Linked DNA regions of Homo sapiens. The protein of the gene in region 3 interacts with the protein of the main gene of each other region in a pairwise test. Each region holds a gene or a part of one and is shown on either strand. Other genes may lie near its edges.

Region 1 (4,040 bases), on a different chromosome or scaffold from region 3:
TACAAAGTTGCAGTTTCTAAAAAGCCAAAAAACCATAAAAATGACATCGAGGGCTGGGCGCGGTGGCTCACGCCTGTAATCCCAGCACTTTGGGAGGCTGAGGTGGGCGGATCACGAGGTCAGGGGATCGAGACCATCCTCGCTGACACGGTGAAACCCCGTCTCTACTAAAAATACAAAAAATTAGCCGGGTGTGGTGGCGGGCGCCTGTAGTCCCAGCTACTCAGGAGGCTGAGGCAGGAGAATGGCTTGAACCTGGGAGGCGGAGCTTGCAGTGAGCCGAGATCACGCCACTGCACTCCAGCCTGGGCGACAGAGCGAGACTCCGTCTCAAAAAAAAAAAAAAAAAGAAAAAGAAAACTGACATCAAAGTTACTTACCATTAGAGTTAAAAGGAGGAAATTGCATCTATTTCAGGCACTTTAACATTACTTTTCTCTTGTATATGCTTCCATAGAAATGCTGAAATATCTAGGATTGTGTGTTCAGGTGTATTTTTTTTTTTTTTTAACATAGTGCTGGCCAGGCGCGGCAGCTCTCGCCTGTAATTCTAGTACTTTGGGAGGCCGAGGCAGACGGATCACTAAAGGTCAACAGTTCAAGACCAGCCTGGCCAGCATGGTGAAACCCCATCTCTACGAAAAATACAAAAATTAGCTAGGCATAGTGGCGCGTACCTGTAATCCCAGCTACTCAGGAAGCTGAGGCAAGAGAATACGTTGAACCTGGGAGGCGGAGGTTGCAGTGAGCTGAGGTTGCTCCACTGCACTCCATCCTGGGTGACAGGGTGAGATTCCGTCTAAAAAATAAATAAATAAATAAAACAATGCAGGGTTAACGTATTTGTGAAAACTATTAATGTAATAAATATCTTTGTCAGTCTGATTCTGATATACTTGGATATTTTAGACATCTTCAGAATTTTAACGTGGCATGTGTTATGCTCCTGATTGTTAAAGTGTGTTTCTCTAATATGAAAATTATTAAGTAGCCTTGGGAATTGTTTTGTGTTATAAATGCAGCTTGAGTCTACTGAAAGCATCCTGCAGGAAGCTACATCATCCATGTCTTTGATGACCCAGTTTGAGCAGGAAGTATCCAACCTCCAAGATATCATGCATGACATTCAAAATAATGAAGAGGTGCTCACTCAAAGGATGCAAAGCCTTAATGAGAAATTTCAGAATATTACGGATTTCTGGAAGAGAAGCCTAGAAGAAATGAACATTAATACAGACATTTTCAAATCAGAAGCAAAACATATACATTCTCAAGTAACTGTCCAAATTAACTCAGCTGAGCAGGAAATAAAATTGCTCACTGAACGGCTAAAAGATTTGGAAGATAGCACACTAAGAAATATTAGAACAGTAAAAAGACAAGAAGAAGAAGATCTCCTGCGAGTAGAGGAGCAGCTAGGCTCTGATACAAAGGCAATTGAAAAGTTAGAAGAGGAACAGCATGCCCTCTTTGCCAGAGATGAAGATCTGACTAATAAACTTTCCGACTACGAACCCAAAGTTGAAGAATGCAAGACACATTTGCCAACAATTGAAAGTGCTATTCACTCTGTTCTCAGAGTCTCTCAGGATCTGATAGAAACAGAAAAGAAAATGGAAGACTTGACTATGCAGATGTTTAATATGGAAGATGATATGCTGAAAGCAGTGTCTGAAATAATGGAGATGCAGAAAACCCTTGAAGGAATTCAGTATGATAATAGCATATTAAAGATGCAAAATGAACTGGATATTCTAAAAGAAAAAGTTCATGATTTTATAGCATACTCAAGTACAGGAGAAAAGGGAACTTTAAAAGAATATAATATAGAAAATAAAGGAATTGGTGGTGATTTTTAAATTCATGACATTTATTCTGATGAACCATATCATTATACATAAATTGATTAGTCCATTGATTTTGAGTTACTTTGATACGCCTCATCTTATCCTACATTATTGGAAAATAAATGAGATGTCCACACAAATGGATTATCCACATAATCAAAGCTTATCTTTTTAAGCACTAAAACTTACTTCATTGTAACTATTTGAAATAGAAATAGTTCTTTAAAAATATTTCTCTACTTTTAAAACAAGATACTTAATATTTTTAATGTTTTTTAAAGCATTAATGAACATCATCATTAATTTCACCTATTATATTGTACCCACATATATTGATGTCTCCAGGGGCTAATAAAGAGTATTTACCACTTCACTAAATGACCCCAATTTGCCATTTTCAAACCTATGTCTCATACCTTTTCTGTCACCTGAACTTACTGTCAGGTTGGTTGGTAATGTGCCTGCCTCAGCCAGTTCACTTTCTTAGGTAATTCACTGCAGGTTAAGAATCCACACAACCAAGTTCATGGGAATTTTGTGTAAAATAAAAGATAACATGCCTGAGGGAGAGCCTGGTGCCTTTGCTATGAATTAATATGCACTTTCTGAAAACTCTAAAGCCTGGGAAACATTTTAGTTTTTGTTAAGGTTCTAAACTGTGTTACAGATACTTGTAAGACTTTTAAAATCAGAGTAAGTATGTTCTTACATAAGGCCTTTCTTAGGAATTATGTGTATATAAATCTTTGAAATATCTTTATATACCTGAGTTTTAGGTTCCAACTGTGTTAGACATGAGTTTGCTAGATCCATGGTCTCTAGATGGTTTACTTAAATAGGCCAGGCGCAGTGGCTCACACCTGTAATCCTAGCACTTTGGGAGGCCGAGGTGGGCAGATCACGAAGTCAGGAGATCAAGACCATCTGGCTAACAGGGTGAAACCCTGTCTCTACTAAAAAATACAAAAAATTAGCCAGGCGTGGTGGTGGGTGCCTGTAGTCCCAGCTACTCAGGAGGCTGAGGCAGGAGAATGGTGTGAACCCGGGAGGCAGAGCTTGCAGTGAGCCGAGATCGCGCCACTGCACTCCAGCCTGAGTGGCAAAGTGAGACTCTGTCTCAATAAATAAATAAATAAATAAAAATAAGCCTGTGGCCTGTTTTGAGGGAAAAGTAACATAACTCTGATAATTAATTATGATAATAACTATGATAGTTAAAAATACGTCATTTTAAAGATTTCCCAAACCACACCACTAAATTTGTTTTATGAATTGATTTTATTTTATTTGAAATTATATAATGTAGTCAACTGCAATATGGAAGTTTGTTCTTGTTTCTTTGTCAATAACCTTACCAGTTTTATAATGCAGTTTTTGATGGAATTAAACACAAAGAACTTGAAAGCAGTCAGTTACAAAAAGGTAGTTGTGGTCAAGTAGTTTTAATATGTAAATTTGCAAGTTTTTGGAGAACCCCCAAACTCCTTCTCCACTGGAGTTAGGAGGGCCTGTGGTAGACAGCGTGAATCATGAAAATAAGCCTGGAGAGTTCTGTTATTAAGGGGCATAGCATTAATTTTTGCAGTCTTAAAATTACACTTCTTGACTTCTGAATGTCTCTTATTTGCGTGCACTGACAAAATTCTATTTGTTTACTTTTATATTAATGGTAATAAAATAGATTATAAAGTAAGCTGGAACTTTGTTGTTTTAACCTCCATCCTGTCAAGGCAAATGTGATCTCTTATCTTATATCCTTTACGTTTAAATATTTTTTTCTCACCGATCACCACATTTAATATGAGGTTATTATGAACTTATATATACCATGGTAATGGTTACTGAAAGTAAATGGAAACAAGGTGGCTACTGTTCTCTATAATGACACAAGGGAAAGGAAGAAAACTGCACTTCTACAAGTATAACATGAGAAAACTATTAAAGTATATATGCGTTTGTATGTATGTATAGATATCTAGATAGATATATCCTGTATTTATGAAGAGGTTTTCCTATTAAGAAATTATTAGAGAGATTTAGATGTACTTAATTTGTCTTTCTCTCTTTCTTCCATTCATTTATTTAACACAGATGCTTAAAATTTCAAAAACTTTCCTGTGTATCAAATATTAAATTACATTGTTAGTCTTTTCTTTAGGGAAAATTACCAATATCCTAAAACACATTTTTGTA
Region 2 (7,049 bases), on a different chromosome or scaffold from region 3:
TACAGCATCTTTTTGTTATATGTACTGCCTTCCACAGAGCAGGTACTCAACAAATACTACTGTGGACACGAATGAAGACGGTGAATCACCTTCATCTCAGTGTGTGTAGAAACTCAGTTTTAAAGATGTATATCACAGCTGTGACAGTGTCATTAGACCTGGGCAAAATGCCACAATTAGCTGCCACCTTACCTCTGCTTTACGAATATTTTCTCTAGCTTCATCTATTTTCTGTTCTAGCTCTGCTCGGCTTTGTTCTGATACAGCAGCTCCATGACACTCCAGATCATTTAGAACCTATTAAAGAAAATGGGACAATAATGATGACTGTTTTTTACTTTTCATCTTCCTTAAGTGATTAAAGTATTTACATAATTCAAAGGGCTTTAGTGACTAGTAGCCATAATTTTTTTTCATTTATTTATTTTTTGAACATTTTGAAATAATTATAGACTTACTAGTAACAAACTTACTACAGACAGTCCCTTCAGTGGGGAAGCCAGGACCAGCCACTATCTGATTGCCGCCACATGAGAGACCCCAAGGGAAACTGCTAAGCTGAGACCATCCAATACTCAGATTAGTGAGAGATAATGTAAAAACCCTCTTGTTCTATGGCATTAAGTTTGAGGTGGTTTGTTAAGCAACATTACATAAGTGGAACACTGAATTTGAGACACCTGTGAGATAGTGAAAAGAAGATGTCAAAACAGGCAAGAGATTATATGGATACACAGTAGTAGCAAGGCCCAATGTTGAAGATGTTAATTTATGATTTGGTGGTAAAGTAAAACCATGGAAGTGACTGAGAATGCCTATATGAGGGTAAAGAATAAGAAAACAAGATAGCCAAGTATAGGAATCTGAGAAACTGAATATTTCATTGTGGGATGGAGAAAGAGGAACCCATGAAAAAATCTAGGTATGGCCAGAAAGGCAGAAGGAAAGCCAGGACAATGTTGAATCGTGGATGACTAGAGAAGATAACATTTTAAGACATGGAATTGTTAATTGTGATGAAATTGTTGACAGATTAAGAAAAATGAGAAATCAAAGTGTCCACTTGGAAGCTAGCAACACAGACATCATTGGCGATTTTGGTAAGCTTAGACAGGGGAAGGAAAGGACAGGAAAGCTCAAATGTAATGGGCTAAAAAGTAAGTGGGAGGTGAGATTCTATAGATAATAAGCATAGGCAATTCTTTTAAGAAGCAGGATGTGAAGGCAAAGAATGAGACGGATATAGGTATCAATAAATGAAACAGAAAAAAAGTACTATACTCCAAATAATTTCTTTGTGCTTAGAGTTTAGTCTTCGAGATATATTTTCTTTCTTTCTTTCTTTCTTTTTTTTTTTTGGAGACAGGGTCTTTCTCTGTCACCCAGTCTGGAGTTCAGAGGCATGATCTTACCTCAATGTAACCTCCACCTCCCGGGCTCAAGCAATTCTCCCCAACCTTAGCCTCCCGAATAGGTGGGAAGATAGGTGTGCGCCCCCATGCCCGACTAATTTTTGAATTTTTTGTAGACACCGGGTTTTTTGCCATGTTGCTCAGGCTGGTCTCAAACTCCTGGTTCAAGCAATCCACTTGCCTCAGCCTCCCAAAGTTCTGGGATTACAGGCGTGAGCCACTGCGCCCAGCCAAACATATATTTTCATGAAATCTATAATTGTGTCTTTCTTTTTTCTTTTTATTGAGACAGAGTCTCGCTGTCGCCCAGGTTGGAGTGCAGTGGCGTGATCTCAGCTCACTGCAAGCTCCGCCTCCCAGGTTCATGCCATTCTCCTGCCTCAACCTCCCGAGTAGCTGGGACTACAGGTGCCCGCCACCACACTCGGCTAATTTTTTGTATTTTTAGTAGAGATGGGGTTTCACCGTAACACATGTTAGCCAGGATGGTCTCGATCTCCTGACCTTGTGATCCACCCACCTCGGCCTCCCAAAGTGCTGGGATTACAGGCGTGAGCCACCGCGCCCGGCTATAATTATGTCTTTTAAAAAATATGTCTTGAGGGATGAAAACTTATATTAATTCAACATATGTCTCTTCCCCTGCCCATAATACACTATCACAATTTTCTTTGTTAATTTTATGGTAAACAGGTAAATTAATGTATTGCTGATGGAGGGCTTAAGGAAATTCCAACATGAGTAGATAGCTGACAGCACACTGCTGAGTGTTGAGAAAGTACAGAAAAAACACATATAATGCTTGAGCAAAGGAGTTTGAGACCAGCCTGGGAAACATGGCAAGACCCTATCTCTACAAAAAATCTAAAAAAATTTAGCCAGGCATAGTGGCATGTGCCTGTGGTCCCAGCTACTTGGGAGGCTGAAGTGGGAGAACTGCTTCAGCCCAGGAGGTTGAAGCTGCAGTAAGCCATGTTCACACCACTGCCCTTCAACCTGGGTGACAGAGCAAGCCTCTTGTCTCAAATAAAACAAAACAACACATATAGGATATTTTTCACATTAATAAAACTCAGTTCCTTAAACTGTTTGACATTTGGCTTAAGGTGAATGTAACTAGGACTTTCTCTTACACTTACCCGTTGTTGGTGAACAATGTTTTTATGCTCACGTGCCACACGTGTGGCCCATTTTCGAGCTTCCTTATTTAGACTGTGCTCCTCTGTGGTCCCAGTTTCTGATTCTAACTGTCGGCTCTACAATACAAGAGAGAACAGAGATAAAAATATTGCTATCCTTATTGTAACCACTACTGCTTTGTAGATGGATCAGAAGGCCTTCACTTAATCAGCACTCAAAACATGAGGCACGCTCCACTACTGCTGGAAGCAATGTCTTAACGTCACAGAAAGTTACCAGAAGAGTAAGATCAGCATAAAACCATTAAAGACCATAAGCTTTTTGTCTTACACTGCTGAACACAAAAGCATCATCTATAATACTGCAGACTTATCTTTTTGGGTGTGATGGACTTATCTTTCCGAGTGGGAAGGAAGCTAGCTAAGGTAAGCAAAGAAGAAAATGTATTCATGCCAACCTACTATGGTGATAAAATCATTGCATAAATAAAAATGGAAACAACTTAATAGTTTAAATGTGAGTAAAGAATCATTAAAGAGAAGTAAGAACAAAACAATATAATAACAGCAACACAATCTTGCACCCCTCCCCCTGCCCCAAGGCAGACGGAACTCTTTAGAGGTCCACCATCAACTTGCCACCAAACCTCAAAAGCCAGCTTTTGCTCTTTCTCCAGGCTTCATATGAAAGATAAGGGTGCTAGATCAAATGATCACCAAGGGTTTCTTCTAGCTCTAAAATGCTATGATTCTGATTTACAAAGAACAAACCACAAAATCTAAATAAAAATAGTAATAGCTAACTTCTATTGTGCAAGGTACTATGGAAAGTGCTTCATATAACTTTTTTTTTTTTTAACAACCTGATGATGTGGGTCCCACATCATTTTATAGAAAAGAAAACAGAGGCTCAGAGAGGTTAATTTTTCCTGGATGTCCTAGATGTTAAATGTTACAACCTTAATTGACCGATTCCAGAATCAGAGCTATTAAACACAAAACTATTTTAATTCTCTCTAAATTCTTAAAGACCCAAGAAAAACAAACTTTATTGAGATAATTAGGAATTTTTTTTAAAATATAAATTACCCAAAGAGGCTTTTAATATAGAAAGCAGCAAAATTGTAGAATGAAAAGAATTTTAGAAATTCTGATCACGGCTCACTGCAGCCTCAACCTCCGGGCTCAAGTGACTCTCCCACTTCAGCCTCCTGAGTAGCTGGAACTACAGGTGTGTGTCACCATACTCAGCTCATTTTTTTTTTTCCTTCTAGAGATAAGGTCTCACTATGTTGCCCAGGCAACATAGGAGTTCAACATCTTGAACTCCTTGGCTCAAGTAATCCTCCCACCCTGGTCTTCCAAAGTGTTCAAATTAGAGGGATGAGCCAGTACACCTGGCCTAGTAATTCTTTTGCAAGGTCTCATAGCTCAAAATTGATAGAGTAAGTAGAAATTGATAAACTGGATTTTAAAAATTAATATTTTTGTTGGGGGAATTGTGATGAGGCAGGGTTTAAAAATTTTTGTTCTATACAGACATTTCAGCTAGATTATAACAATGACAAATAAATTGAAATAGAGCAAAATAATCAATATTCAAACTTAACCATCTTTACATTCATATTTTACATTCTAATTCATTTTTGGGGTTATCAGAAGTTTGGGAATGAACTTTACTATTATATTTTGCTTTGCAAATGAATCTGGGCATTCAAACTTACATCTGTTCTCAAAGTCAGGAATATTAAAGTGTTAAACTCTGGACACAGATACAAATGAAATATACAAAAGTCAGAGGAATGTGATCTGTAAAAGTAGAAAGATAAATTCTGAAGAGTCCAAGAATAGGTTTTTGAGTCAGATAGACTTAGTTTGAATCCATTGTATGCCATTTTATGGCACTACTAGCTTTATGATCTTGGGCATGTTAATTATCTGAGTCGTAGCTACATCTGAAAACTAGTGAAAATGTCACCTATCTCCATAGGGTTGGTAGGTTATAATGAGGTCATATTTTAAACATTCTGGTATAGGATCTACATAATATCTTAGGCATCCAGTAATGGTAACTGTTAATGTTAAAGACCCAATTGAAAATTACTTGAAACAAAAATTTTCTTATTACTGTTCATAAGAAAATCCAGATAATTCCTAGGTTCTTAATAGCCTAAACAATGAATCCAAAATGAAGATTGAAGATATATTGAAAGATTAAGGCAGATCTCAAAGAGAATGAATTTGTAGGGAGTAGCTAGATGAGAAAGGAGGCAACTGATAGAGACATTTAATTTTTGTTACTGAGCAGCATTTTAGGAATAGGTAAAGGGGTTTAAATTGTGTGCTGGCTGCAGATGGGCCATAACCCAATTTGCCTTACAGAATTTATACCTTCTTATTGAGTATTCACTGTGCTCAGGATAGAGCTTTTCCCTTATTTTTTATGTGTCTACTAAGACTTGGGAGTCCAATGATCAGGACAGGTAACTAATGCCACTGATTGGAAGATGTGGCTTTGAGATCCTTTGGGTAGGGAATGACACAAAACTAAAACTCAAATTAATTTATCCTTTTCATGAATTCTGAAATCAAGCCATGGAATACATGTGGAAGCTCCTGAGACACAGGTCTTGACAACTGAGAATTTCATACAAGGTGAATACAGCCCAGGCTATTAAACAATACACAGAGAAATGTTCCAATACCACCTTCACTATCAAAGATCAATATAAATCAGGATCTAGTATAGATAATTATGTTTTTGTGTTTTTGTTTGTTTTGTTTTTTGTTTTTTGAGACAGAGTCTCACTCTGTTGGCCAGGCTGGAGTGCAGTGGCATGATCTCAGCTCAGTGCAACCTCCACCTCCTGGGTTCAAGTGATCCTCCTGCCTCAGCCTCCCAGGTAGCTGGGACTACAGGCATGTGCCACCATGCCCAACTAATTTTTTGTATTTTTAGTAGAGACGGGGTTTCACCATGTTGGCCAGGATGGTCTCGATCTCTTGACCTCGTGATCCACCCGCCTCGGCCTCCCAAAGTGCTTGGATTACAGGTGTGAGCCACCGTGCGTGGCTGGTAATTTTTTTTTTAAGACAGTGATATTAGCAGTGGTCGATTCTAACAAAGAAACCGTAATGACTGCTTCTTTTTAAAATGCTGGCAAATTTATTTTTATTTTTAATTTTTTGAGACAGAGTTTCACTCTGTCACCCAGACTGGAGTGCAGTGGCATGATTTTAGCTCACTGCAACCTCTGCCTCTCGGGTTCAAGAGATTCTCATTCCTCAGCCTCCGGAGTAACTGGGATTACAGGGCATGTACCACCATGCCCAGTTAACTTTTTGTATTTTTAGTAGAGATGGGGGTTTTGCTATGTTGGCCAGGCTGGTCTCGAACTCCTGTCCTCAAGTGATCCACCTGTTCTTGGCCTCCCAAAGTGCTGGGATTACAAGCATGAGCCTCCACGCCTGGCCTAGATCATTCTTTTAACATTTTTCTTTTTGGAAGACAGGTTCTCACTCTATTGCCCAGGCTGGAGTGCGGTGGTGCAATCATGGCTCACTGCAGCCTTGACCTCCCAAGCTCAAGCAATCCTCCCACCTCAGCATCCCAAGTAGCTGAGACCACAGCATATGCCATCACACGCAGATAATTTTTTTGATTTTTAGTAGAGATGAGATCTCACTATGTTGCCTAGGCCATCTCAAACTCCTGGCCTCAAATGATCCTCCTGCCTTGACCTCCCAAAGTGCTGGGATTAGAGGCATGAGCCACTATGCCCAGCCCAATATTTTTCCTTTATCTTTTAAAAATGTATTTGATACAAAAATTAGCTAGGCGTGGTGGCGCCGGAGGTTGCAGTGAGCCAAGATCGTGGCACTGCACTCCAGCCTAGGCTACAGAGGGAGACTCTGTCTCCAAAAAAAAAAAAAACTCTAGTCCCTTTAGAATAAAATATTACAATAAAGTCTTTTCAACATTCATAAAGTTATTAAATAACTTTGAAGAACTAAATTAAGGAAATCAGCATTCCAATATTCTTGATATATTAGTCTTTAAGTCATCTTAACTATTTTGTCCTTAGATGCTCTCTCAAGATATGATTTTGTTTTATTTTAAGGTTAATACAAAGGCATAGAAGGCTCAGATATCTGAGCAGAGTGAGCAGCGATAGAAAAGCTGACTTCGCAGAAGAAAACAATCAGTTTTTTAACTCTGTAACTAAAATATAACCATTTCAAGGAGAGAAAAAGAGATGGTCATGTATGATGAATGAAAATCACTAACAGTAAAATACTAGCATTCCAAACCATTTCAAAAAAAGATAGTGTTGGGGTTGTTAGGCCAATGGCATAACATTCTAGTTAACCCTCATTCAGGGAATTTGTACTACTTACATTTTTCAGTTTACTGAGAGACAAGAAATATACTGGGGCTGGGCACAGTAGCTCACACTTACAATCCCAGTGTTCTGGTAGGCCAAGGCAGAAAAACTGC
Region 3 (7,049 bases):
TGTCAAATGAATGGATACACTTTCTAGGACACTATGAATTAGGACAATGGACTGAAAAATAAGCAGAAAATTTAAACACACCAGTGACCACAGTGCAACTGCAACTGACGATCAGTTTCCACCAAACTGCAACAGAGAGAGTGGCTTTGCCGGTGAGTTCTGTCAAACTACTGTGTTATTTAAACATTATTTGGCCTTACAACTAAGGTGAGGCCCTTGGGCCTCTACTGAAGGCCCAATGTGTTCAACAAGGGCTCTCCATGCTGCCTAAGGGAACACATCTGATTTGCAGCCCTGAATGAACTCTGGGACTCATTCATCATGCATGTACTTTCCTCAGAAGTTGCTCTTACCCAGCCTTGCGGGGCTGCAGCCAGATCTCCCACGAGTGGTAATGTAACATGAAAACAATGAGCCACATCTTCAAAATTCCAAAGGAAAATGACCCTCAACCTAGAGTTTCCTATCTAGGCAAGTATTAATCAAGTGTAAGGGCAGAATAATGACACTTCCAGATGAGAGGTATACAAATTTACCTTACCTGCACCCATTTACAAGAAGCTAGTGAAGGTTGTGCTCTTTAAAACATGATGGAATTTACCAAGAAAGAGGAGGACTTGGCTTAGGAAAGAGAAGATCCAGTAGAGAAGGGGAGTGACAGGAATCTGCAGGAAATGATGAAGGGCAATCCCAGGATGTTAGCTGCACACCAGAGATGAGGAGACAGACTAGGACCCCTGCTCCATTAGACCTCCAGGTCCCAAACACCAGGTGAGCCAGGGCCTTGGCCTGTCTTGCCCATGGCTGATGAAGTGTTGTACTCTCTATCAAACCCTGCAGTCTGGGCCAGCTGAGGACTCTCCTTGGAACCCAAAGAAGCAGTTTGTTTCCACCTACTCCCAAGAGCTGAAGGTAAGCTTTGGTGATCTTAGAATAGGAAAATCTGGGCAGCCCGTTCTCTTGGCCCTAGCTCTCTTGGGCCTGCCCAGAAGAGCTCTGCCAGATGCCATGGATCTGAGGGTTTTTCTATCTCCCAGGATGATTCAGGACCTCACCCACTGATTGGGCCCTTGTATATTCAAGGGAGCTGAAGCTGGGGTCCTTTTTCTGGAAGTCTTTATTCAAAAGTGGTAATATTGCCCTTTGCTCAGCTGGATTTGAATAATTTGCTACTCAGTTTTTCAAAGCTGAATATATTATTTAAGGATACTATTATGAAATGAATGTTTGTATTCCTTCCTCCCAAATTTCATATGTTGAAGCCGTAACCCCCAGTATGGCTATATTTGGAGACTGGGTCTTTAAGGAAGTAATTAAGGTTAAATGAGATCACAAGGTTGGGGCCTTCATGACGGAATTAGTGTCCTTATAAAAAGAAACACTGGAGCACTGGTGCTCTCTCCCCGACTCTCCTCGTGCGAGCACTAAGGAAACGCCACATGAAGACATAGTGAGAAGCGGGACATCTAAAGCCAGGAAGAGGGCCTTAACTGAAGCCAAATGCCTAGAACCTTGATCTCGGACTTCCTAGCCTCCAGAACCATGAGAAAATAAATAAGTGTTGTTTAAACCGGCAGTCTGTGGTATTTTCTTATGGCAGCCCAAGCAGACGAATGTAGCTACATATAAAGACAGGGAGCTGTGAGGGAAAGCAAGGGAATGACTGGCCTAAAACCCAAGACGGTGGTGGTTTCTGGTGGGCAGGGCGAGGGGATATGATTGTGAAGGGCCCAAGGGTGTTCCAAGGAGTACTCATCCACTGTTTCTTAAGCAGGCTACTGGGTACATAGGTGTTCCTTTCATTATAATTCTGGAAACGGTTTTATGTTTTTTTTTTAATTTTTTGAGACAGAGTCTCACTCTGTCACCCAGGTTGGAGTGCAGTGGCACGATCTTGGCTCACTGCAACCTCTGCCTCCTGGGTCCAAGCGATTTTCCTGCCTCAGCCTCCTGAGTAGCTGGGATTACAGGCACATACCGCCATGTGCGGTTAAGTTTTGTATTTTTTAGTAGAGATAGGGTTTCACCATGTTGGCCAGGCTGGTCTCAAACTCTTGACCTCAGGTGATCTGCCTGCCTTGGCCTCCCAAAGTGCTGGGATTACAGGTGCGAGCTGCCATGCCCAGCTGTTTTATGTGTGCTTTATATACACATATAGTAATTCACAATTTTAAAGAAATCAGATAAGATAGACTTTAAAGAGTTAAAATTACCTTCATATTTTCTCTTAGAATCCTCTTGCTTTGGTAGTTTATTCACACAGTGAGGAATTTCATGATTTATTTCAGTTGATTTTTCTTTATGATCGATGTTTCCTGTTGCCTTTTTACCCTGTAATTTAGAAAAGCAGCAAAAACACATTTTGGGGGGTCTAGATAACTTAAAATTGCATTTTATTCTAATGACTACAAATACTTTTCACATAGAACAAGTGACTGTAGCCTATTTTTGTTAAGACATGTTTAATCAGACACTGCAAGATTCCAAATTTGCTGTACCTTAGTTGTCAAAGGTGGAACATCTGATTTTTGGGTTCCCTGGTGTCTCATACTTGTGAATGGCAAAATTTTTCTGTCTGCTTGGACTGATTTTGTTGAAGAAACTATGGAACAGGTAGATTATATGTAAGAAACATATTTTACATTTGGATACAATATTGATTTTAAACATAAAATAACTTTTATGCAATGTAATAATAAAGTATACTAAGTATTTTCTAAATATTCAATATATATATAAGCATTTGTTAGTTTCCTGTTTTTCCCTCCAGGGCCCTTGCTTTGTCTTACTTTGGGCCTCACAGTGTTTGAGTATAAAACAAGTAGGTGTTAGGATAAGACATTGTTGCTGTTGGAGGACAAGGCTGTCCTTTGTGGATGGGATTCAGCAAGGTAGACGTGTAATTGTGAGAGGCCAGGCCACCGAGCTATCCTGTGGCGGAGCTCTTGATTATCAGTGGTTAGACTGTCCATGCTGAAGCGCATGACCACTAAATCTAGACTGCACTTTCCTGAAAAGTGAAGGAAATTATATCATTTAAACAACCCCTCGGTTGATTCATTGTCTCTATTATTCTAGATTATAAGCCAGAAGCAAACAAAGGCAGGCAAGGAAATTTGAGGTTGTTGCATCTGGAAGTAAACATGTAGCTACTTCTTCTAATAAAACAGAGGTGAGTATTCCTATGGTACTTCTGAGTCGAATCTGTTGCTGGGAGATTTTGGGGGGAAAGCAGTGCACGTGCTCTTGAAGAAAAGAAGACCTCACCAATGAGAGGTATACACTAATGATAGTGGCATCAATATAGATGAATCTCAAAAACACTATGCTGAACAAAAGCAGCCAGATACAAAAGGGTGCAGCTGTGGGATTCCACTTACATGAAATTCTAGAACAGACAACCTAGGCTATTGTGACCAAAGGAAAGTCAGTGGTTGCCTCGGGTGAGGTAGGGGACTACTGACTGCAGGGGACACGAGGAAACTTCCTGGGGAGGTGGAAATATTCAATATCTTGATTGGGGTGGTGGCTCCATCGGTATAAACATCTGTCAAAACCCACTGAGCTGCGTGCACACTTAAAATGGATGCATTTTATTGAGGTCAAGTATACCCCAATAAAGTTCATTTTGAAAAGCCATACACTGGCTAACAGATACACTTAGAAAGTTCACTTTTTGGCAGACATTTTGCTTCAAGCTGAAGTTATCCTTTTGCTCCACCTGAAGAAAGGACATAAAGGGGTGTGCTGAGGATGGGAGAACGGGAAAGCATTTCTATTCCTTGCTAGCCATGTCACCATCTCAGTCTCGTTATTCTTCTAGAATCACAAAATGTATTTTAATGCCTAATGAAGTGATTTTTGAAAATATCCATTATTTTGTCTATATAAATTAGGAAAATCTGACTAGATACTTAAAAATAGATTTTGAGCAAAAGTAATTAAAACATACCTTTTGGATAGTCCTCTGTGTCATGTAAATTTTTAAGTATTCGATGACTATAGATGTTTTTAATTTCAAGCTCACGATCCTTTTCCTAAAAAGAACCACAAAACCAATTTTTCTATAAATGCTTGCTTTTGTCAACCCTGATTTCTTTTAAAAACAATTTAAATGAGCTCAGTATCCTATGAATAAAATCTGTAGATTTTAGAAGAAACAGAAATAGGCCATATCATCCTATACCATTCCTGACATCGAAAAGTACTAGCTCTTTAAACAAAGTGACACATTATTGTGATCGGGACAGTATTTTTGAAGAGCCTTGCAGGTCAGCTTGTCCACTGTTTTCCTTCTGTCCTGTGGGCCTTGAAGTTTATGAAATATTCTTCTGTACTGTGCATTACAGTAGCCACTAACTATATGTTGTGATTTCATTTAAATGAAAGTAAAACTAAAATTTAGGTCGTCAGCCACACTATTTGTATTTCCAATAGGCGGTCAGCAGCTGTGTGTGACTAGTGACTACAGTATTGGATGGCACAGGTGAACATTTCCACCATCTAATAGAAAGTTCTATGAGACAGGGCTACGTCTAGACAAGGGCCGGGGGGGAAGCCTAGAACAAGGGTATCATTGTTCCATTTTAAATTTCATATTGATTTTTTTGAGTCTTGGCAAAACAGACATTTTGAAACCTTAACTTGTTGAGGAACAAAGAAAGGGTTTTTATTAAATATCAAATGCTCCTTCTTACATGTACACCAGGAGGCAAGAAAGGCTTTGGACTCAAGACCATTGAATTTTAGTAACAACCATGGTTAAGAGAGGTGGGCATATATGAAGTAAGGAGGAAGGAACCCAGGGATGTCAGAGTGTGACAGACGTGCATGTGCACACACACACACACACACGGGGGGTGGGGCGGGGAGAGAGAGCTCTTGTCTCCTTGTGCCCCTTAGGGTCAAATCTATGGGCCAAGGGATATTCAGGGGGTGAGAAACATCTCTGAGGTTTGGGAAAGTCTCAGTGCAAGAGGCCTTGGCGTGGTCCAGGAAAATTGCAAGCCCCTTAAAAAGCGCCTCCCCCGCCGCCCCATTCATCATGGAGCTAAAGTAACATGGTATTGCCCAAGTGTAAGTTAGAAAGGGCTAAATACCCTCTCTAGGCCAGAGATTGTGCTTCCCTTACCCTTGCAACCAGTGGGACCTGTGGAGGGAGCTGCACCTGCCCTGGAGTCCTTAAGGTTACAGATCCAGGTGCTCCCATAGCACAGGCTTTGCAACAGAGAATCTAGCCAGGGATCAGATGGAGGATGCATCTCAGAGCATTTGCATCAACAGTCAGCAGGGGACAATCACCAGGATTTATTTGACCAGACTGAGAAGAGGCCAGGAGTTTTAGCAGCCACATTCAGTACACATCAGACAGGGTCCTGGGAATTTGATTTAAGACTAGTCACTCGTCAGGAGAACCAGCTCTAGAGAGGGGCCAGAGGGCAGAACACAGACCAGAGGCCTCTTTTTCACTCCACCAAGAGTACACATATGTTTTCTCTCATGCCCAGGATGCCATCTCCACTGAGACAGAAGATAGGGATGAGGAAAAAGTCTGCAAGTCTAAGAGACAACCTAGCATAAGACTGTTTTGAGTTAGAAGAGACTGAGACAAGCTTTTATCCATTTCTTCTTGTCCAACTGCCATCCTCATCCCTAATTTGTGGGACTGGGGCTCATAAGGAAGTATGGCTTAGTTACAGAAAATAAAGAACATGACATATTTTTGTACCTGAATTGTACAGTGTAAATTTTCTACTCATTTGAATCATAAAATTAGTTTATTATCAGAGGTACACAAAGGGATAAAACATGAGAATATTAATCTTTTCTAGAATTTAAGTTTCTGGAGGCAAAAATGTTAACAGTTCATCTCTCTTTTCTTATTGTGGTAACAGCCAAAAGAACAGTAAATGCTGACAGTTCATCACCATGAAAAGTTGATCAGGTGTATTCTGGATAATAGCTTTCAGATGAAGGATACTGTGTAAAACATTTTAGAATGAGTTTTCATCCACACTGGTTAGGAAACATTTTCATGTTTACAGGGACACATTTTGATTACCTGAAAAATTCAGTTCTATCTTTTGATTTGGTCTGGACACCTGGAGGTCAGCAACCGAGAGCAGGAAGGAGGCACAGCAACAACAGAACAACAACAAGAGGCTGCGACAGGGGCGGCGTGGGTCAAAAGGAAGCAACCTGGAGGACGGTCCTCCTTGCGGCTTGGAGCAGAGCTTCAGGTTGGGCACCACGACAGAGCTGGGCCAGAAGTCTAACACAGCCTGTTTGGAACACAACCCGGGATACTTGTGTGGTTGGGTTCAGTCAGTCAAGGGAAACAAGAAGCTAACCCGTGGCTGGGAGTGTTCATGCAATGCTCGTGGAATACTCAGCGCAAAGCCTGCCCGCAAGCACAAAGGGTATCAAGGAAGAGTTAAATGGGAAGTTGGGTCATGGTGTGGAATCATATTAAGGTCAGCATTGATGGCTTCCGGAACTTAGATAGAAAGCAGTGTCTTAATGCAGGAGTGTGACCGTAGCCTGGGTGTAAGACGGGTGGCAGTACCTCACGTGGGAGCTGTGGAAGGCTGACATCCCTCTTCTTACTTCGGCTCATACTGCAGAAGTGGGCCTAGAACTCGGTGTGGGATGACTTTGAAAATGAGTTTCAAAGTAAAGAAACGAACTTTTGACCTTTGGGACCAGACTCTTCCAAGCTCAAACTATGACTTTCGTTAATGTGGCAGACTGTATTTTCCTAGAATTCCCACGACAAGATTTCTAGTCCTATATGCTCTTCAACAACCTCGTGACTCGCTACCAAAAGGTGGAGTTCACTGCTTGAACTGCCTAGGACTGCCCTGACAAATGCTGTGAGGCAGAAGTGATGCTGCGTGACTGCCAAGGCTAGGTCATAAAAGGCAGTACTGCATCTGTCTGGTTCTCTCCCTCTCTCTCTCTCTCTCTCTCTCTCTCTCTGTGTGTGTGTGTGTGTGTGTGTGTGTGTGTGTGTGTCTGTGCATATTTTACTTTGTGATTGTCTATGTTTG
Region 4 (7,164 bases), on a different chromosome or scaffold from region 3:
TTTGTACACACTGATGTGCTGCAGGGTTTCCATTTTTGTTCATTATCTGGGTATGTGTCTCTGCTTTTCTCTTAATACTGGAAGCTTGCCAAGAACAAGGGTGAGCTCTCCTATACTCTCTGGCCCTGAACCCTGAGAGCAACCTGCAGGGCCCTGCAGAGGGCATGGGGCAAGATGAGTGTTTGTGTTTTTATGTTATGTACAAACACCAGCTACTGTGTGATACTTATTACTGATGGCCGATGGTGTACAGAAGGGAGTGCAATGGGACAAACGCATCCCTTCCTTTGGGATCAGACACACAGGCTCTGGGTTCCAGTTCTGCTACTAACATGCAACCTGAGCCTTAACCTCCCTAGACCTCAGTGTCCTCATCTATAAAACGAGAATAATAACACCAACCTCAGAGGGCAACTGTAAAAATTAAATGAGTTAATGCATGTTGGACTCTTAAAATAGTATCTAGTGTGGTATAAGATGAACATCAAAAGATTTTATTATTAAGTTTGGAAGAATAGTCATAAAATAGCTTTCTACATGAAACATCTACTACTGACATAACTTTAAAAAAAATAGCCACATACCCCAGAAAAACTCTTGCATAAATGCACCAGAAGACATGAGAAAGGATGTTCATAGCAGCTCTGTTCAATCTACAGAACTCTGGAAACAACCTTGTGGCTATCGAGGTAGAAAGGCAAATAAACTGTGGTATAGCCATGCAATGAGTGCAATCCACAGTGAAAATGAACACAGGACAGCTACAGGAAGCAACATTTAATGAAAGAAACCAGATGCACAAGGATCCATGCAACATGAGTCCATTTATGTGAAGTTCAAAAGCTGGAAAAAGAAACAATATGTCATTGCAAGATGGGTGCATTGGTTCTAAAACTGTAAGAAAAGCAAAGGAATAATTAAACACAAAATGCAAGAGAGGAGTCACCCTAGGCCAGGAAGGAGTAGGGTACAATCAGAACAAGGTACATAGGAAGCTCCTGAAATACACACATGTTCTATTTTTTCCTATAAGTGGTAGGTATTGCTACAGATCTAACCACCTATGCATTTTTTGTGTTGAAATATTTCACAATAAAAATAATTGTTATCTCCACAAAGTTAAAATCTATCCTCTTTACCTTGCCAGAGCCAAGACCATAGAGTGGAGATTCTGCCATCTTCCCTCCCCTCCTCCCTGCCACCTTCCCTCCCCTCCTCCCTTCCCCATGACAAGGTTTTTTCACTCTGAAGAAAACAAGTTGAATGTCCTTTTAGGTCTTCAAAAATTAGCAGCAATTAATTCCTGAAGTTTAATGAAATGGTGTCACATTTGAATTTTTCATATTCTTACATCTTTAAAATTGCTTAGTAAGGACCAGCCATTAGTAATTAGCTTGTGTTTATACATGTTGTTTTTATAAGGAGTTATACTGGTAGAAAAGGTGAAGTGTGGATGAGATGTACTTTGACTCACAGTGCTCCTCAGGACACCCAACCGCTGGTTTACTGGGGACATCACTGCTCAATTGTGAGCAGTGCCCCAAATTCCAGATGAGGGTACAAAGAGCTTCAGAAGTGCTGGCCCAGCAGCCCTGAACTCACAAAGGGACAGCAGGTGCCATACTCTTCTCTGGGGTGACCAGATAGCTCAACACAGTCTGTGACCTCCCACATTTGTCCTGCACAAGGCCACACTCTGAATGTTTTGCACAGATACCCTGAGAGCCCTATTCTCTTCTATTTTTTTCCTCTCCTCTCTTTTCCCATCAATCCTGCTTCTGTTCTCATTCCCTAAGTCTACTCTGCCTGCCTTTGCCCTTGAAGCATAGCAGCTCCAGGGGGCTATAAGCCAGGCCATTTCACTTCTCTTTTCTTCTCCTCAATTTAATGCAAACCTCTGTACTTTACGAGCTAATTTTTCTAGGACCTGCTCTATTGGAGTGGGGGGTGGTTCACTGGGTAAGTAGAACATAGTACAGTCTATCAAAGTATTGCCATATACCAGAGGTATGCAAATAACTAAAACTGATGTTTTCCACCCCGTCCTTCAATTCTTAGCCACGGGGTGCTGCACATCTAACTCATACTCCTTCCCAGCCCCCAAGTAGCCTCACATCGCCGTGTGTCCCTAAATGACCCCTCATGGTTCTAACCATCCCAATCCACTCTGACTCTGCCCGTCTTCCTTAGATGGACTCTCTCACACCCTAAATTCACAGATACTCCCCTGTAAACAACTTTCACTACCCTCTTGAACTTATCCAAAGATTAGGAAGTCAAGGGGTTGTCACAGCTTATAAGTGAGAAGGCAATGCAACTCCTGGCTCCATCACTTACCAGCTGGGAGACTTCGGGCAAGTTATTTAACCTCCCTGACCCTTGGTTTCCTCATCAGTAAAATGGGGATAATGGCACATACTTCATATGATTGATGTGAGAATTAGAGATCATTTACGATATATAATGATGATCACATAGTAGGTGACCAATTAAAAAGAAACATATTCTTATCAAACTAAGATCCATGTTTCTCTACACAGTTCTTTCTAATTCTAATTCTCTATACAGTTTTTCCTAATACAGGGGGAAATGTACTGAAGTGATCCAACCTCCATCTCCTGGGTTCAAGCAATTCTCCTGCCTTAGCCTCCCATGTAGCTGGGAATACAGGCACGTGCCACCATAACGGGCTAATTTTTGTATTTGTAGTAGAGACGGGGTTTCACCATCTCTGGTCTTAAACTCCTCCACTGAGGCTGGTCTTGAACTCCTGACCTCAGGTGATCCACCCCCCTCAGACTCCCAAAGTGCTGGGATTACAGGTATGAGCCACTGCGCCCAGCTGTGATTCAATTTAGCATCACCAATCTGACATTTTATGCTTCCTGGGGTGATATAATAAGAGTTACACAGCATATTTTATGAAGTATTCTGTCCCAACAATGTTTAATTTAAACCTAATCCAGCCTCTAGCCCAGTGCTGTCCAACAGAATTTTATGTGAAAATAAACAATAAATAAAATAAAAATAAATAATAAAGAAGTGTTCTTTATATGCACTGTCTAATAAGGTAGGCACTACTTACAGGTAGCTGCTGAGGACTCAAAATGTGGATAGTGCAACTGAATAACTAGATTTTTAACTTATTTAGTTTTTACTAACTTAAATTTAAGTAGCCACATCTGCCTATTGTCTACCAAATTGGACATCCCAGCTCAAGATTTACTTTCTAATTTATAGAAAATACAAGGGCTAGAGCCACAAATTAAATTATGTAAAATGTAGTTTTAAAATCCTTAGGACAGTTAGGAAAATTGAATCTGAGATGAATAGTAAGTGGTGCTTTGGAATTATTGTTAATTTTCCTGAATAAGAAAATAGTACTCTCCTTATTCTTAAGAAATTCCTGCTGATGTATTTAAGGGTGACATGCCATGCTTTCTGCCACTCAAATAATTGGGCAACTGTGAAAGCAAATATGGTATAATGTTAACTGTTGAATCGGGGTAAACAGGTGGAGCATCAATGCATGTGTGTTGTATTATTCCAATTTTCCTCAATATTTGAAAGCTTTCATCATAAAAAAGATAAAAGACAAATATTTAATAATCTGCTGACTGTTCCCATGGTAGGAAAAGTGAGATGGTTTTCAGCTGCCAACTGAAAAATCTGGAGATGGGGAAATCCAGATTTGTGTTTCAGGAGCACTTTAGCCACAGCTGTGATGGAAATGAGAGATGGTATTTATTAATGCCTCAGCCTTTCCTGAAACCCCTCTCCCCACATCACACTTAACACACAGGTCTCCTCCTCCCAGTTTCTCCCAGCACCTGGCCTCCCTTCTCTTCCCCTCGCCAGGCTCTACTCCTCCTTCTCGTCCTCTCCTCTGCCTTCCCCTTCCCTCCCCAATGCCTGCAGATGAAGGAATGCCCTGCTGGCAAGACACTTTGAAGATGAAACATGCTGACTCCCCCAGAGCCCAAGACTGACATCTTTTACAAAGAAGAGGGTGCAGGCCACTCCCCCATTAAAGCACATTCTGGAGAGGCGTTAGACCCGGCTAACCACCCAAGCCCATAAAGCGCAAATTGCCCCAACATCATCTTCACAGCCAAGCCCCTTCAGAATCTGCGCATAAATAGGGCTGCGGTGCCCTGAGGAGCACATTGGAGTTTCCATCAGGACTCCAGGTCCCCTATCCTGTCCTCTGCAACCCAAACGTCCAGGAGGATCATGACCTGCGGATCAGGATTTGGTGGGCGCGCCTTCAGCTGCATCTCGGCCTGCGGGCCGCGGCCCGGCCGCTGCTGCATCACCGCCGCCCCCTACCGTGGCATCTCCTGCTACCGCGGCCTCACCGGGGGCTTCGGCAGCCACAGCGTGTGCGGAGGCTTTCGGGCCGGCTCCTGCGGACGCAGCTTCGGCTACCGCTCCGGGGGCGTGTGCGGGCCCAGTCCCCCATGCATCACCACCGTGTCGGTCAACGAGAGCCTCCTCACGCCCCTCAACCTGGAGATCGACCCCAACGCGCAGTGCGTGAAGCAGGAGGAGAAGGAGCAGATCAAGTCCCTCAACAGCAGGTTCGCGGCCTTCATCGACAAGGTGGGTGTCCTGGATCACACCCTTCCTGAACCCCCACCACCTACACAGCCAGGGCCGGGCACTAAGGATGGAGTCAGAGGCACAAAGACCTCTGCCTGCCTGAGATCCCAGTCTGATGGGCGAGGCACACAGACACACAGACAGACAGACACATGCACAGACACACACACACAGGCACTCAAGATGCAGACTCAGCTGACAGTTCAGATAGAGGGAGCTTGTGAAGGAAAAGTGTGGCCAGGCTGCTCTGGGGCACAAGCTAGACATCAGGGAGTTGGGGGAGGGGGGCATGTGACCACTGCTGCTGAACTCAGAGGGGTTTGGGCAGCCCCAGGGTGAGAGAGTAGGGTGCACTGACTTCCAGATGACACAGGGGAAGGGCTGGGACAGCTGAGCTCCCTTCCAGATGGCCTGTGACACCCTCTTCCTGGCACCATCCCCAGAAACCTCATCTGTGATCTGAACCTGAGTACTCTGCCTGTGTGGGTTGCTGATCACCTAGTTTCATAGTGAGGGACTGAGCCTCCACTTCTGTTCATCTGCTTGGGTTGGGGGGGGGGGGTCACTCAACTCCCCAGGGAGCAGGCACTGACACCACCCAGCCCTTGCTCCACTCCTGAGTGGGAAATCTAGACACAGATCATGACCAGGAAATCCAGAAATTGTCTGTCTCCCACTGCCCACCTCTACTCAATCTCAGATAAGCTCCAGATTTGGGGGTTCCCATTAAAGCACCTCCCCTGCGAGCCCCCAGAGCTGGCTTTGGGGCACCAGACACCATCTGCCCCACCTTCCCACACCGAATGGCAGGTGCGCTTCCTGGAGCAGCAGAACAAACTGCTGGAGACAAAGCTGCAGTTCTACCAGAACCGCGAGTGTTGCCAGAGCAACCTGGAGCCCCTGTTTGAGGGCTACATCGAGACTCTGCGGCGGGAGGCCGAGTGCGTGGAGGCCGACAGCGGGAGGCTGGCCTCAGAGCTTAACCACGTGCAGGAGGTGCTGGAGGGCTACAAGAAGAAGTGAGTGCGGGCAAGAGGGATGCTGGGCACAGGAATGGGGTTTAGGTTAAATACACTGGATTAGACAATAAGAACTCCCAGGTAGGGTGAGTGGCCATGACCACTAGATTGACCGAGGGTGGCGGGGTCTTTTCCTTTGTGGAATCTTTGCCCAGACACCTGTGTAAGAGGAGGGCTGTGACTCCCATGACCTGTCTCTGTCCCACTTCAGCCTTCTCTCCCTGAACCACATCACCCAGCAGCTCTCCCCTGCGCTGGGTGGGGAGGAAGCCTCTGCAGGGTCCAGGCCTTCTCTCCTGACCCTCAGCCCCTATACTTGTAGCACCTGTCAGATGTGAGCCCAGGGTCTCTCATGAGTGACAGGTCTTGGGCTCTGGGTGTCCCACTGCCTTAGGTTCTAAGTCCTGAGGGTCTGCGGGTCCAGGAGGCCCCATACCTGAGCTGGGATTGATACCAGTGAGGGGAGGCTAGGGCTACAGGCCCTGAGAGTCCACGCTGTCCACTCCCAGGATGGGGCTGGGGGCTGAGTCCTATTTGCCTCCTGGGGGACCTCAGAGCCCCTTTGGGAACAGGACTGGGAGGTCCCAGATGAGCACTCTCCATCCCCAGTTCAAAGTGGATAGAGAATCCCAGACACATCCCACATCCAACTAGAAAGCACTAAGCTAGGCTGCCAGGCCGGGGCTGTGTGGAGGTGTTTCTAGTACTGTCCCCATGGCTGTGATGAAGTGTGATGTGATGGTGGCTCTGCAGAGACCTGCCCTGCCCTGACCTCCCCTCTCTTCCCTCTGCTCTGTCTCAGGTATGAGGAGGAGGTTTCTCTGAGAGCAACAGCTGAGAACGAGTTTGTGGCTCTGAAGAAGGCAAGTGACACAGGATTGAGAAGCACAGATCTGTGGGATCTCAGAATGACAGATTCTTCCTGGGGACACACAGGGGGTCTCAACCTCAGCGTGGGGCACAATGACCTTTCCACAGCAGGCTAGGACTGCCCAGATGCAGGCCTTTGTATTGAGCATCCAGGGCCTTGACAAAGGGCAATGACTTGGGAATATCTACCAGCACCTACCTTGGGCAAGGGGATGGCTGCACTGTCCTCTGTGTGTCCTGCTCTGTTCCAGAGGTTGTGGTCTATTGCTGAGGCCCCTGGAGCCATAGCAGATACAATGTCTCTGCTGAGAGACAGTGCAGTCTGTCTAGCATTTTGGGGAGTCTGACCTTGAGGCAGAGACACAATCCCAGGGTCTAAGGGGGGATGGAGAAGAACCAGGAGCAGCCACTGGGCTCTTGGAGCACTTGTGGGGGACAGGAAAGGGTCAGGGTGTGAGAGCTGGGGGGTCAGTCTGGGCAGGCTTCCTGGAGCAGGAGATGAGAGAAGGGAGAGACAGGAGGGCAAGGAGGGGTGAAAGGCTGGTGAGGCATGGTCAAGGCAAACAGGGTTTGTCATCAGAGGGACAGAGGATGCCAGCTCATCCCAGGAAGGGCAGAAGGGGAGGAAAGGCATGGGAATGGGACACCAGGGACTGCTTTCCCCTGGCTACAT

The links.
Region 1: the proteins of LCA5L (region 3) and IKBIP interact in binary tests that used the Homo sapiens proteins (3 or more experiments, as listed by UniProt).
Region 2: the proteins of LCA5L (region 3) and FCHSD2 interact in binary tests that used the Homo sapiens proteins (3 or more experiments, as listed by UniProt).
Region 4: the proteins of LCA5L (region 3) and KRT81 interact in binary tests that used the Homo sapiens proteins (3 or more experiments, as listed by UniProt).

Annotation. Positions count from the first base shown.
Region 1 is NC_000012.12:98,623,749-98,627,788, reverse strand, and holds the end of IKBIP (inhibitor of nuclear factor kappa-B kinase-interacting protein), read left to right. Parts: intron 1-1,022; coding exon 1,023-1,859; 3' UTR 1,860-3,540; downstream 3,541-4,040. UniProt on the Homo sapiens protein: Target of p53/TP53 with pro-apoptotic function.
Region 2 is NC_000011.10:72,887,278-72,894,326, forward strand, and holds part of FCHSD2 (F-BAR and double SH3 domains protein 2), read right to left. Parts: intron 2,669-7,049; coding exon 2,552-2,668; intron 298-2,551; coding exon 193-297; intron 1-192. UniProt on the Homo sapiens protein: Adapter protein that plays a role in endocytosis via clathrin-coated pits. Contributes to the internalization of cell surface receptors, such as integrin ITGB1 and transferrin receptor.
Region 3 is NC_000021.9:39,407,766-39,414,814, forward strand, and holds part of LCA5L (lebercilin-like protein), read right to left. Parts: intron 6,282-7,049; coding exon of another isoform or gene 6,039-6,281; exon of another isoform or gene 5,759-6,038; intron 4,038-5,758; coding exon 3,953-4,037; intron 3,173-3,952; exon of another isoform or gene 3,079-3,172; intron 2,603-3,078; coding exon 2,499-2,602; intron 2,332-2,498; coding exon 2,214-2,331; intron 913-2,213; exon of another isoform or gene 841-912; intron 153-840; exon of another isoform or gene 28-152; intron 1-27.
Region 4 is NC_000012.12:52,288,535-52,295,698, reverse strand, and holds the start of KRT81 (keratin, type II cuticular Hb1), read left to right. Parts: upstream 1-4,164; 5' UTR 4,165-4,233; coding exon 4,234-4,602; intron 4,603-5,412; coding exon 5,413-5,621; intron 5,622-6,423; coding exon 6,424-6,484; intron 6,485-7,164.